2 separate regions of the Homo sapiens genome follow, and region 1 is linked to region 2. A link means that fine-mapping ties the variant in region 2 to the expression of a gene that starts in the linked region. Tissue or cell type: whole blood. Region 2 holds a variant in brackets; the other region holds the start of a gene. All regions are shown on one strand. Distances are between the middles of the regions.

The links. PIP is the estimated chance that this variant, and not a neighbour inherited with it, causes the effect.
Region 1: it holds the start of SLC41A3, and the variant in region 2 is fine-mapped to the expression of SLC41A3 in whole blood (TOPMed, PIP above 0.99). The same link has a PIP of 0.9 or more in blood mononuclear cells.

The regions. Positions count from the first base shown.
Region 1 is chr3:126,080,584-126,087,572 of GRCh38, forward strand. SLC41A3 (solute carrier family 41 member 3) reads right to left here and starts at 3,541. Exons shown (of 11, transcript NM_017836.4): 1 at 3,510-3,541. It overlaps ALDH1L1-AS1 (ALDH1L1 antisense RNA 1), which reads left to right and starts at 3,632. Exons shown (of 8, transcript NR_190231.1): 1 at 3,632-3,869. RefSeq lists silencers at 3,189-3,298, 3,339-3,888.
Region 2 is chr3:125,970,476-125,978,174 of GRCh38, forward strand. It overlaps ROPN1B (rhophilin associated tail protein 1B), which reads left to right. Exons shown (of 7, transcript NM_001308313.2): 2 at 642-687; 3 at 1,568-1,695; 4 at 5,088-5,205; 5 at 6,529-6,690. The coding sequence starts at 1,580. It also overlaps the pseudogene ALG1L1P. Among named protein-coding and RNA genes, the nearest start is that of ROPN1B, 5.1 kb to the left of the region's middle. The variant A/G (reference allele first, on the strand shown) is at 4,245.

The DNA of each region.
Region 1 (6,989 bases), 110 kb after region 2:
GTTCCTCGTACACTGTTAGTGGGAATGTAAACTAGTTCAGCCACTATGGAGAACAGTATGGAAGTTCCTTTAAAAACTAAAAGCAAGCCAGATGCAGTGGCTCAAGCCTGTAATCCCAGCACTTTGGGAGGCCAAGGTGGGAGAATAACTTGAGGCCAGGAGCTTGAGACCAGCCTGGCCAACATGCCAAAACCCCATCTCTACTAAAATACAAAAAATTAGCTGGGTGTGGTGACACACGCCTGTAGTTCCAGCTACTTGGGAGGCTGAGGCATGAGAGTCACTTGAACCCAGGAGGTGGAGGTTGTGGTGAGCTGAGATTGTGCCACTGCACTCTAGCCTGGGCAACAGAGCGAGATTCCATCTCTGAAAAAAAAAAACAAACTAAAAACAGAACTACCATATGATCCGGCAATCCCACTAATGGGTACATATCCAAAAGAAAGGAAACCAGGATATTGAAGAGATATCTGTACCCCATGTTTCTTGCAGCACTATTCACAATAGCTAAGATATGGATCAACCTAAGTTTCCATACCAGATGAAAGGATAAAGAAGATGCGGTACATATACACAATGGAGTACTATTCAGCCATAAAGAAGAATGAGATCCTGTCATCTGCAACAATATAGATGGAACTGGAGGTCATTACATTCAGTGAAATAAGCCGTGGACAGAAAGACAAACATCACATGGCCTCACTCATATGTGAGCGCTGAAGGAGGGGATCTCAAGGAGGTAGAAAGTTCAATGGTTACCAAAGCCTGTGGCGGGACAGGGGGAAAAAGGGAGGATGGTTAATGGCTAGAAATACACAGTTTGATGGAAGAAATAAGAAATCGTGTTTGATGAATCAATACAGTGACTATAGTTTACAATAATCTATTTTATATTTCGGAATAGCTAGAATTCAAATGTTTCTGGAATAAAAGACCAATCTCTAAAATGATGGATGTCTATATTGCACTGATTTGATCTTTACAAGTTACATGAACGTGTTAAATTATCACAGGCAACTCAAAAATATGTACATCTATTATGTGTCAATAAAATTTTTTTAATATAAATAAATGAACCTGGTGTGATGCACCTCACCTCACCACCACTAGGGCAAGGGGTGGGGAGAAGGGCCTGGAACACAGCCACAGGGCTCTGGGTCTGCCTCTGCCAGAGGCAACTGGGCAGTGACCACTCCAGGCCACACATCCTCACTCAGCCACAGTCTTGGTGAGTCACTCACACGCGTGCCTGAGGAGGTTAACCCAAGAGTGCGCAGCCACTGTGCTTGGTGACAGCAAACACCAGAGCGGCAGGTGCTGGCGCAGCCCTGATCCGTGATTCATGCTGGGAACACGTGTGCAGCTGTACCTAGAGAGCCCCAGCCCTGGTCCACCCTCACTGTGCCTGCACATGGTGCCAGAGGAAGGCCTGGCCAGGGTGACCCGGGAGCAGGGCCCAGCTGGTGTCAGCACCACACCTGCTCTGTGCCCCTTGCAGGGTGGGGGATCTCCCAGCTGTGGACATGGCCAAAGGCCCCTCAGCTCCACCTGAATGTTGGAGTGTTTGCAAGGAGAACATGCTCCAATGTCCCTGTGTCACTGACAGCTCGTGCAGATGAACAACCAAGCACAGGCTGGAGGAGGCTCCTGTGGGAAAGTGGGCTGTGGGCCAGGAAACCTCTAATCCCAGAGCCCCAGGGAGGAGCCAAGATGCCAGAAGATGCCAGTGGAGGCATTGCCTCCAAGGTCCCCACAGAGGACATTGGGCAATGTCTGCACATGGTTTTGGTTGTCCCGACAGGGGGTGATACAGGACAGCCCCCCAAAACAAAGAACTGCCCCACCCCAAATGTCAGTAGTGTGGAGGCCGAGAAACCCTGCTATGGGGCAGTGGTCAGAGACCCTTGTGCCTTGAAAGGGGCTAGGCTGGGCAGGACAGGTTGTGGACCACCTGGGGCCACAGTTCAGAGCCACGCCTGAGTCTGTGAGGCTGCCCACCCTCCCAGCTGCCAGCATGGGGTTGGGGGGTATCCGCCCCCATCAGACTGAGGAGGAAACGGACACTCTGTCACCCAGAAGCATCCCTGTGTCACCCTGTGAGGTTGGCCTTGGACCCAGGCCTCTAGGCGCCCCGTCAGCACCCCAGTGCGAACACATCCTGCCCGGGGACCTGGACCCAGCAGCTCACACAGACCAGGGCTCGCCCAAAGGCAGGCAGGCAGGGCCACTGCTGACCACGCACCTGGCTGGTCGTGATTCTGGAACTAATGGTTTCTGCCTGGCAGGGAGGCCGCCAGGACCTCTGGGCTTCACCCCTCCCCACCTTCACAGGGGACCTCGCCTCAGTGGGAATGTTCTGGAGCCGGAACCCAAGGTTGGAATCCCAGCTCCTCCCCTTTCTAGGTCTGTGACCTTGGAAAAATTAAACTTTCTGTACCTCTGTTGCCTAATCTGTGAAATGGGGTAATACTACCTACTGTGTAGGGCTGTGAAGATTAAATGGAGTCATGCATTATCATCACAGGGCACCTGGCCCATCCTCAACCCCAGTTCAGACTCCTCAAAGCCCTAAGGTTTCAGATCAATGGTCAGAACCACGAGGAGGACCTGCTAAAGACAAGTATGGGGACCCACCCCCAAGGTTTAGGATTTAGAAGGTCAGGGTGGGGCTGGGGAACCCGCATTTCTAGCAGATCTCAGGAAAGGCAGTGCTGCTGGTCCTGGGACCACAGTTTGAAAACCACTGGTGTAAAAAAAGCCTTCTAAAAAAAAGTGGGATTTGATCACTAAAGTCATATGGAAAAAACTGGAAGAAAGAGGAAAAAATAAACAAATAAATAACGGGATTTTAAAGAGACCTATCCCACCGGCTCTCCTGGATGGAGAGAGTGTGGGACTCTGAGACAGACTCCCGGCTGGGCACCCCCAGGAGGTTTTCTTCACCAGAGGTTTGCACCGAGCCCACCCAGGACAGTGGGCTGAGCCTGTGGTAGAGGCTGGCGGGAGGTCTGGCTGAGGCAGCGAGGGGTCCCTGCGCGCGGGCGCTGCAGGAGTCACGCGTGTGACATCCAACCAGGAGCCGTGCCCTGAGCAGGCCAGGAAGGAGGAGACAGGGCCGCTGAATGCACACCGCAGCGGTGTGGGGAGCGGCCTCAGACACCTAAGGGTAGGACCGGCCGGCTCCCCCGCGACCCCCAGCGCCTGGGTTCTCTCCCGGCCTCCCCGAGGCGTGGCCTACCCCAGGCATGGCCCCACCCCGCCCCAGGCCGCCCCTCCGACCCCTCGTGTTTACCTCATCTCCCGCGCGCCTTTCCCCCACCGAGTCCCCCAAATCCCGGTCCCCACCTGACTCCCCCTCCCGCCGAGCCCCCAGGGCCCGGCGCCCGGCTCACTCGCCTCCCGCGCACCCACTCCCGGGCGCCCTCTCCCGCGCGCCTCCCCGACCCCCCTTGGGCCCCAGCTGACCCCACCTTCCGCCCCAACCCCGCCCGGAACAGGGCCGCGCTTACCGGGTCCCCTCCCAGGCGGCGGCGGGAAAGAGGCGGGCGGAGGACGCAGGGGCGGGCCTGCGGCTCAGGCAGGAAGCGGGAAGGCCGGGCCTCCCTGGCCCCGCCCCGGCCGGGCGGCCGGACCTCGGACGACTTGGCGCTCCGGGACAGCAGCAGACGCCCAAGCTCCGGCAGCGCAGAGCCCCGCCGGGGGCCCGGGGGGCTGGGAGCCGGGGATCGCGGGGACGGAAGTGGGGGACCGAGTCTCGCGAGCCCGGGCCCTCCTCGCAGCTGGGGCCCCACTGGCGCCCCCGCGGGAGCGCTACGGGAGAGGCGCCTATGCGGCTGCAGGTTTTATTATGGAGCTGTCAAGGTAGAAAGGTACGGAGAACGGGAACCCACCGACAGCCAACTTCCCTTGGGACCCGCCTTTTGCTTTAAAAACAACAACGACAAGTCTGTGCTTCACCCCACACATGCCTTTCGTTTTCCCTTTTTTCCCAGAGTAATTTTAAAGCATCCCAGTGGATAAATTCTCCTTTAAATACTCGAGTATGTTTAATCAGTAAGGCCTATTTTTTTAAACATTCTCATAGTATTACGGTCACACCTAACGAAATTGGCAATTCCCAGTCCGGGCCTGAGGGAGGCCTGATGGTTCACAAGACTTGGTAAAATATATCATTATATTTTAAACCAAAAAATAAATGATAAGGCACCTCCCCGTTCCCAACCACCAAATCATCCGAATGGACTTCTTCCTCAGCCAGGACTTTTAGAATTTAACCTGAAAAACTGGTTCAGGCCATAAGGGGAAGTGGAGGCCGAACATGCCTCATTATCCCTCTCCTGCATTAACATCAACACAGACTTTAAGTCTGATAAGAAACATTTTACAGCCTCTTCTCTCTGAAGCCTGCTACCCTATCCGAATACTTCATCTGCGTGATAAAACACATTGGTCTCCACAACCTCTTAACCCAGACATTCCTTTCTTTAATCCCAGGTCTTTGGACAAACTCAACCAATTGTCAACCAGAAAATGTTTAAGTTGACCTATACCCTAGAACCACCCTCCCCCTCTTTGAGTTTTCCTGCCTTTCTGGATCAAACAAATTTATTTCTTAAATGAACTTAACTTGAAGTCTCATGCCTCCTCAGAATGTATTAAACCAAGCTGCACCCCGACCTCCTTGGGCACATGTTCTCAAGACCTCCTGAAGGCTGTGTCACTGGCTGTGGTCACTCATATTTGGCTCACAATAAATCTCTTCAAATATTTTACAGAGTTTGACTCTTCCACAATAATTTGGCACCCAGCGTGGGGCCTCAGAGAAGACTCAGGACCCCAAAGGAGTTGCCTGAACTCGGAGCGAAGATACCAGTGGGGCCCATTGAAGCCTCCCAGACTTCTAGCTTCTCCCCCGATGGAACTGGTTAAGTTCTCCTGAGCCCCAGATCGCCCTTTGGTTGACAGTCCTTCGTTTAGTGTGAGCTGGTTTTTCTCCTAGGAAGTTGTTGTTTAAGGATTCTAATTCTAGTTCAGAGACACATTCTAAAGGGTTTTCTTTATTGCTTTTTCTCCCAAAATTAATCTTGATTCGGCTTGTCTGCGCATTTGTGTGAGGAATTGAACTGTTGTTTTCATAGGTAAATGAGAGACTGAGTTTTCTCAACTCCAAAGAGAAAGGCATTTGCTCCTCCCAGCCAAAACGTGCTCCTGGGTGACTGGGGGCCTTGTGGGAGTGTCTGGGGGGGGGTTGACATCCTGTGACATGCAGCAGCCCTATGGGGAAATCCCCAACAAAAATTAATTTTAAAAATGGCTTGTCCAGGAATGCATATAAGGACTGATCACCCATCATTTTGAGCCCTCTCAAAGGTAATAGACCTCTGGAGAGAGAAACTGAGACATGTAACAGGGTGGAAACAACTCAGTGGTGACACATGGTGGGGTCCTGCCCACAAGCAGCACACATTGATCCACCACACAAAAACCCTAGGCCACAGCTCAGTTCCTACTTCTAAGAAAAAAAAAGGTGGGAAACAAATGATCTAAGAATGAGGAGAAAACAAGGAGAATGACCTCATTTCGGGCACTCTGTTGGTTTTATGGTGCGTCTACTTGCCAGAGCTTATGTAAAATGGAAATATAATGATCCTTGTGCACATTTACATTAAGGAAAAGAGCCCTAAGGTCAACCTGTACACTATAGAGTTCCTAAGTTCTCTTCTTCTCTATATTTTCTGCCTGCTTTAAATCTGCTTTTACTTTTGTACTGAAATTAAAAACCACTGTTTGGATCTAACCTATTTTTCTTTTTCTTTGTTTTCTTGTTTTTTTTTTTTTTTTTTTTTTTTTTTTTGCAAGCTGGGGAATTTGTATTTATCTCATGGCTAAAGTTCTGAAGTAAAAGCTATAGGATCTGTGTGTGTGTGTGTGTGTGTGTGTGTGTGTGTGTGTGTGTATTTAAAAGGATTTTATAATAGACTTCTATAATTTTGTTTAAATGGCAAATTAAATCCATTTTAATTTCCCTCTAGCAAACCAGACTGTCTCTTGGTACTTTGAGATGTAAATTTTGCTATCTGATTTTTCACCTAAGAGTTGTTTCCTTTAATATGCAAATGTAGGACTATTTAGCTGACAACTGCCCAGGGTGATGAAACAGGCTATCATGAATTTAAAAGTCTAAGGGAAAAAGAGGTCTTACAAATACATAAGATGTACTTCTATTGCCATGCCTAATACGCTATGCATTTATGTGTTGTGTACACAATGTGTCACTACTAAAAATATGTAAAAGAGCTCTAATTAGCTTAAGTAAAAATAAAAGCACTTAAATACTTGATCAAAAAATACTAATCAATGCTTTTCAAGTTCACGTGACAAGTAAAATATTTAATAAATAAACTGTCTTTAAAATCATTGGTAAAAAAAATTAAAATGTTCTAAGAATTGTTAGTATTTTTGTTTGCATTTATTGATCAAGTAGCTTCATGCTTATTCCTTCAGAATACTATAAGATTAGCCATAGGGTTATAAAACTATAAAACCCAGCCCAAGACAGAATGATCTTTGCTTGTATAATTTTTGATAAATAAGACATGGAATATGGTTGGTTTAATGAAAACAGCTAAATCATGAGTTACTGGAAAAAATACTCTTATATTTAATCATAAGTTCATTATTGAAGTAAACACCTGAAATTCACAGCTATAAAAATGGTTAACAGGGAAATAACTTCAATAATGACTGTCACAGTTTTTGTTAATAATCCAGGTAAACAAATAAATTAATCAGGTAAAGGTAATGGAATAAGTGTTTGTAAACAAACGTCATATAATTTAGGACCTCAGGTTATTAATAAGTATTAAGTATCTGGGTAATTTCCAATTTAAAAATTATAGAAAAACTTTTTTTTAAATGGTAAATATCTTTTTCTAATTCAAAGCTTATTTAAAGGTTATGTATAAAACAAGGTAAAAGGAACTAGGAAA
Region 2 (7,699 bases):
AGACTATACAGTCTATTTTAAGACCTACATTCTTCAGCACTTGGCAGGTATACGTTGGGCTGCCATTTCACATTGGGAGGCATGTTTTGTTTGCTTTTTTGTGTTTTTTAAAAATTCCTTTCTTCCCCCCTCTCCGAGAAACACCCAAGAATGATCAATAAATACTAAAAAAATTTTAAAAAATCCTTTTTTCCTCTGTACAGATTTAGTGGTTATTACTGTTAAAACTTTTCTAATACTTTGCAAAGTCTAAAATTAATCATTATTTTATCATCCTTTTCCTCCAAATAAAAGAACATAAATAAAGTAAAAGGTCATGAAGTCCCACCAATCTAAGACCACTTTAGTTTCTTGTCTTGGGATTTCCGAGCCATGCTGGTGTTGGTATAAATGGAAAACTTAGAACTAGTCTGTGGCTACCAACTCCTGGGGGACTGTTTCTCTCCTGACTAGAAGCAGCAATGGAGACAGGTTTCTTTGTTGCTTACCCCAGCCTGTAGGCAGATATTTTCAGCCACACCTTTTCACGCTGAGGGTGTAGTCCCTGGGCGGGTCTCAAGTTTAGGTCAGAAGGGGAGTCCTTTAGTCCAGACATTTGCCTTTTGTGAGCCTAATCCTTGGTCTCTATCCACCCTGCCTAGCAATTTATCTCAAAGCTTCAAGTTCCTGCCATCTACATGTGCCCAGGTGAGCCCTAGTTTCTTCATTTGCCCAGCACTGCGGGTTCCCCTTTCCTCACCTCATTGGCCACTGGAAGATTTCTCTCACTTCACTGCAAGCCCAGCAAGGCAATGTGAAAGGCTTGTACTGAGATTTGTCTGGCCTCTAGGTGTTTTGAAGAGGGACAGCTTTTTAGCATATCTAGTCTGTCCCTTTCTCTACTAAAAGCAGAAAAAAATCTTTTGATCTGTTGTTTATTTGTGGATGGAATTGTATATATTTTATGGATGTTCATGTTTTGTTTCAATTTGTCCTGGAACTTTTTGAGAGAAAATGTACGAGTTTTCCGCCTGACAATTAGAGTTGAAAAAACATGCAGCTATAAACAGAGACGCTCATCAAATGGCTGTTTAATGACTATTTTTATATGGAAATAACCTAATGTTAATTCATAGAGGGTTCAGAGTAAATTTTGCTACAATTCTTACCTAGCTAATAAGAGCTGGATGACATGCAAAGATGTTCATGATATACTTTTGAGTAAATAAGCTGTTTTGCATAATCTTATTTTTTTGTTTTACAAACATATATATTTATACTGAAAAATTCTGGAAGGAGACATCCAATATTTTAGGGTGATACCATTAGGGATTTTTTTGTTGACTTCCACTTTTTAAATAAAAAAGGACTGTGTAATTTTTACGTAAAGGATATAACTATTTACAACAAAAAGTAGGGGTTAGCAGACGGCTTTCTAACCTTGCCGTTGTGTAACAATAGAATGCATTTGTCTTGCGGAGTCCCCAAAATTGAGTGTCAAACAGAGGCTGGGTGACCTCCTGTCCAGGATTGCTCTCATCTTATGAGTCCAAGTTTTCATCTTATGTATTTTTTCTCCTGAGAATAGGTCAACCAATCAATGGCTCAGACAGATAAGCCAACATGCATCCCGCCGGAGCTGCCGAAAATGCTGAAGGAGTTTGCCAAAGCCGCCATTCGGGCGCAGCCGCAGGACCTCATCCAGTGGGGGGCCGAGTACGTGCTCCTTTCTCGCCTTCATCTCTTGGAGGACGGGCGGGGAGAGAGGGTCCTGTAAAACCGCGGAGGTTGTCATGGCTGCAGCCAGGGGGTCGGGACTAACTGGCATCGTCTTTGTTTTAGCTCTTGCATTGCTTTGATGCTTTAAAATCCACACATAAATACTACATCTAGCCGGGCAAGGATGGGATGCCTCCCCTAAGCGAGCCAGATTGAGCAGTAGGACGCCAGGTCAATAGGCCGTGTCCTGGGGCAAGCAGCAAGTTAGATGACCGCGTCACACCAGCGTATGCACACCCACCTCCTCCCTGCACGCCTTTTCCCACTCTCGGTGGAAAGAAGGGCTGGGAATCTCCGCAGCTTAATCTGCCTTTCTTCATTCTCCTGTCTCACCACTAGATGGCAGCAGTGCAGCCGGGGGAGGGAAGCGACAGCCCTGGGTGGATGGGGTGGGACCAGTCCTGCTAGTTCACTCCTTTAAGGAGACACTTCCTCCCCTGCTGTTAAAACTCATACTTGGACCCAACCAAAGAGGCTTTGTATCTTTGAGGAAATTATTGTTATTTTCTTTGGTGTTTCTCTGAACTGATTTGTTCTGCCAACATAATGATGTCCTCACAGTACACACTGCATTCTGGGGAAAGGCCAGGCAGAGTGATGGGGTCCTCAGGCATGGCTGAAAACAGTGTGCCTCAAACACGGGTGCCTTCTTTCAGGAGAGACCTCCAGAGGCTGCTCAGTAGATGGAGCTTACACAACAATCGCTGCGGGCCTGGATTGAAGTAGCTTTGCACAGAAAGCCTCTCAGCTATGAAATTGCTCCTTGGACAAACTTGCCTGCTTGAAACTGGGGAACCAGGACTTGAGACAGGAGTTGGAAGATAACTAGACCTCACGGACCATTTTCAGGCTATTTTTACTGTTTGATGATTCCCTGCTTAGGAGGGTTTCAGTGGGAAAGTGAGAGTGAGAGAGGCCGTTGAGAGAAAGCCAGTGAGTTGGGGAAGGGAAGATGTCCTCAGGCTGAGGTTGTGAGTGGGTGTCCTGGGCAGATGGTGGGGAGAGTGTGGACACCTTTGAGAAGACACAAAATGGCACCTAAGAGGGGCCTTTCGGAGTCTCTGGGCCAGTGTTGTGCTCCTGGTCTGGATTAGGATGCAGCTTTTACAATTGGAAGGAAAATAGGCCAGTGGTGCTCATAAAAAGAAACATAAATGGGGGTTGCTTTGCCTAGTAATAAGCCCTGTTTAGTTTTCCATTCTAAATTTTATATATTGCCTCTAAGATTGAACTTTAGCTTCAGAAGACTAATTTATTTTGGCATAGTCAGATAGACAGACTTTATCTTATACGTTAGTTTCAAACCCATTTGATTGTTCTTGTGCTGCCGTTTTATAGTAAGCAAAATGACATTGCTTAGTATTGTCCCTGACATTTATGGAAGAGGCATTCCACTATTGTAGACTGCTTGCTCTCGTATTGTATCACGTGCTATAATTTTTTTAGACATCCATGAAAACTTAGTTTGTAGTTTAACCACAATGAAAAAGGAGGGCATGACCTAAGAGCCCCCTCCATTCTATCCAGACATGAAAAGCACTGCTCAGATGGTTGTATGTGACTTACTTAAAACCTGTAGCATTTTAGAGAATAAAACTCTGCAAAGTGTTTCCAAGACAAAATACGTTTTTAATCCATTGCAAGTAAGAATTTCCCTACATATGTGTTGTCAATGAAGAAACCTCTTACCAGGTATTGGCAGGACATATACTTATTTGTCCTCTGGTAGGCATGTGTTACAACTCAAATTTGCAATATATGTGTATAACCATGGACCTGATCACTTGCAAATGAAGCTCAATAACCCAAAGAATGAAATCCATGATTACAGCTTTGCTTCCATGTTGTCTAACCAATTCCACAAGAAGTCCAGAGATGTTGCTGCTGAGTGTTACTCTACCCGGGCAGCACTTCTGTGGAATGAGGTGCTGTGTGTCTCTGTCCCTCCCATTTATACCACCCAAGTCTGGAAGTCTGGTTTATAAAGCCTGAGTCCACACCCTGCTCCTGTTGTCACAGTGCACCCACACCCCGCCCACCCCAACACTGATCTGTGTGCAGAGATTTCTCAAGCACATTGTTAAAGGTGCCCTTCCTGCTGATGACCTCCAAGTGGTGACCGGCAGTTACTCCTTTAGTCCATGTAGCTTTCACTCTGCCTTGCTATGTGGCTTAGAGACAGGCAATCGTTAGCCCATCATTGTATGGCTTGACCCTAAAGTGGGCTTTTACAAAATTCCCTCTATATTATTTTCATACTACCTGGATCTGGAGGAAGTAATGGAGGGAAAAAAGCAGGGCGGAACAGAAATTTGTGGTTCATGGATCGTCAATAACCAGGCTTTTGATGGAGACAGACCCTGCCATGCTGCTTTGGTGACCCACATGTCAGCGGCTCATGTCCATTCCCTGCTGCAGGCAGCCTCTTTTCATCTTATGCCAGTCCTGAAACAGAACTCAGTACTTGTTCCACAATGCCCCCAAAC[A/G]AAGTCCACTCCACAAAACATTGAGGAGCAGGCAGATTTCACTGAAAATTTTGAGGGAAGATGGAGAAACAGTTTTATTTTACAGGCACCATATAGCTTAAGGTTGTCTCAAACCTTCTTTGGCTTCTCTTCTCTCCTGAGCCTTGCACAGTGCCCTGCCAACCCTCTCTCCCTTCCCTCTTGAAGCCCCAAGCCTCACTACATACGGCCAGAAATCCTTCCTGATTCACCCCAGGATGCTTCCATCTCTTCCCTTTCCTCCTTTTTCATTTCTTCAGAGATGGGGGTCTTACTCTGTCACCCAGTCTGGAGTGTAGTGGCACAATTATAGTTCGCTGCCTCCTCAAACTCCTGGGCTCAGTGGTCCTCCAGGCTCAGGCTCTGCAGTTGCCAGATTACAGGCCGTAGCCACCATTCCTGTGCTGCCTTCCCCTTTCTTACGTACATTACTTTTTAGTTCTCTTCCAACTTCTCTTCCCAAGATTATATATACACATGTAACATATATCTGTGTGTATAAAACATTCAGAGATGACTGGAAAAAAACCCTGAACCCAATATGCTCCAGGGAATTGCATACCCAAACTTTTCTTGGTTCTTCCTCATCCTTAGAGAAGAACAAAGCTTTGTATTCTCTAAGCATTCTCTGTGCCCTAAGTGGAGAGTAACACATTCAGACTTTTCCCATATGTAAGTGAACTAAACACAATGACACATAGAAGCCACTTTACAAAGGTTCCTTTCTCTACCTCCTTCCCTCAGAAGAAGGGGGAAGGATTGCTAGAACAGCCAGAGGCCACTGGTGTATAGGATCCTCCTACTCTCTGACTTTTTTTCTTGTAGTTATTTTGAGGCCCTGTCCCGTGGAGAGACGCCTCCGGTGAGAGAGCGGTCTGAGCGAGTCGCTTTGTGTAACTGGGCAGAGCTAACACCTGAGCTGTTAAAGATCCTGCATTCTCAGGTAAGGGCCCTGCTGCAGCATTGAGGAGAATGTAGGGACAGTGTTGAGGCTGGGTGGGTACAGACGAAAGCCCTCTGTTCTCCTGCCAGTCAGCTGACCACTTAGCACCACCCTAAAATACACTAAACCGTGGACTGAAAGTAAATCTTCCCTTGGGGAAATGGGAATAATTTTGAAATAGGCTGCAGGCTGAGTCATTGGTGGGGTCATCCCAGATTTCCTTGAAGCTGGCAGAATGTACAGGGGCTCAATGCAATGCTAATCTTGTCTCTCCAGAAAAGTGCAGGTCCTCAGTCACTCGACAGTGTCTCCTTACTGATCAAGACCATAATATGATGCCAATCACAGTTTGGGGAAGGGCATATTTTAGCTCCCCAGTTATCCCAGGTCCAGACATTGCTTTTAGCTTTTAGGGAGAGGCTGTGAGCCTCTTCATAGCCACATCATCCTGGGAGCTGCCTGGTGAATGAATGCATGAGGAGGGTCCGGCTTGAGAAAGTTTGTGGTTTGGCCAATTCCCAGGAAATATGGTTGAGCACCACCAAACCCTGCTTTATGATCCAGGACAGAGCGGTTTGGGGTGATTTAGGACTGGCTTGGCTAACCACCTTGGTCCCAGAGGCTTAGCATTTCACTAGAATCAGACAGTCAGGAAAGGTGTTGGAGCACTTCATCGGGCATCTGTGCTCTTGTTGCATTGGTGGCCAACAACCAGTCATCTTCTCTCCTTTTGTCCACCAAGCACCTTGTGCAGTGAACATGACAGAGCTCTAAAATACCTGGGATCAAGTAACATTAGGCAGCCAGATCAAATCCCCGTGGGTCAGCCACATACCCCATATCATTCCTGGGAAAGCATGAGGGATGCACTTGAGGTCTAGAGCTAAGAACTCAGTGCAATCGGGAAGAAACAGACCTATGTCTTGTTCTAATTTTACCGTTAATTAGTGGTCTCAGGTAAGCCCTCTACCCCTTGGTTTTGTTTTCAGGCTCTTCTATCTGTCATATAAGGAATAAAACAATTTAGGAATACAATAGCAGATAAAAGCATCACCAGAAATTAAAATGTAATATAAATGTATATCTTTTGCATAATTCTGACACCTAAAGTTTGACAATTAATAAATTATATTTCAGCATGCTCTTCACTAGGATTTGCAAAGGTAACTGCCACACAGAGCCATCTTTACCTTCCTAACACCCCCTCCCGCCCCTTGCCATGTGCTGGGAGATGTGGACCTGGCCTGGGGACAGGGTGTTTCTCAGGGCCTTGTCTCAACTTCTCCCACAACCTCTGTGTTGTGTCTGTCCCCTGCCCTGCAGGTTGCTGGCAGACTGATCATCCGTGCAGAGGAGCTGGCCCAGATGTGGAAAGTGGTGAATCTCCCAACAGATCTGTTTAATAGTGTGATGAATGTGGGTCGCTTCACGGAGGAGATCGAGTGGCTGAAGTTTTTAGCCCTTGCTTGCAGCGCTCTGGGAGTTGTAAGTTAGCTTGACTGTTTTTTGTTCCTGAAGGGGAAATCTCCCTCTGGGCCTGGAAGGGCAGTGCATCTATACACGCGGTCAACTCTGCAGGGCTGATGATAAACATGCCTCTTCTCCTATTGTCCTTCTCCTCTCTAAAGCAAGGTCATTTCTGTGCTCGTCAGGCAGTGGCAGGGGTTGGGAGGAGGAGAGAGGGAAACACTGTGGTCAGGCTCTGGGGAGAGTTGACTACAGTGTAGCTCTTGGATTATTTATGAATATTGCCCTCAGATTTATTTTCACTCTGCTCCTTCCATTCATATTCCCAGAGACAACCAAGAGCCGACTGTAGAAAAAGACTTCCAGACACCTAGAATATATATCAATAGACACTGTTTAAAAGGGGTACAATCTTATAGAAAACTATGTAATAAACAGAATTGGATGCAGAACTCAGACATAAGAAAGCAAAAACAAAGAGAGATGAGGCTATTTCTGAATTTAGTCATGACATCTCCATGGATACAGGATGTTCATACAGATTTATGCCTTTTCCAAATTTGACTTGTTTGATATTGGAAAAACAATTTTACTGTTTTGAAGCCAAAGATGTTGAAATCAGTTTATATGTATAGATATTTAAAGCTTGGGTATCTTATATGTGGACTTACATTGTTAAACATTGTTAAAATAAAATGAATCAAAAACATGGTTTTTAAAAAGAATCCCTGAGATACATAAAAGTTTGAAAATTATTGAGAAAATAATTGCCTCTGCCAAAAACAAATGGTATGAAAAGGTAGTCTGAATCATTCAGCATATCTAAACATAATCTTGTTCTTCTCAAATATGCTTGGAATGCATATTTGACACGTTTGTTTCTGAGAAAATTTAGCAGAAATATTGTAGTCCAACTTTTCCTATAGCTTCCCCTACAATGTTTATCATTGCTTTAAAGAGAAGTGAACAAGAGGACATTTGTGGCTTTTTTTCTTCATTGTCCTTTATAGCATTTATTACTGAATAA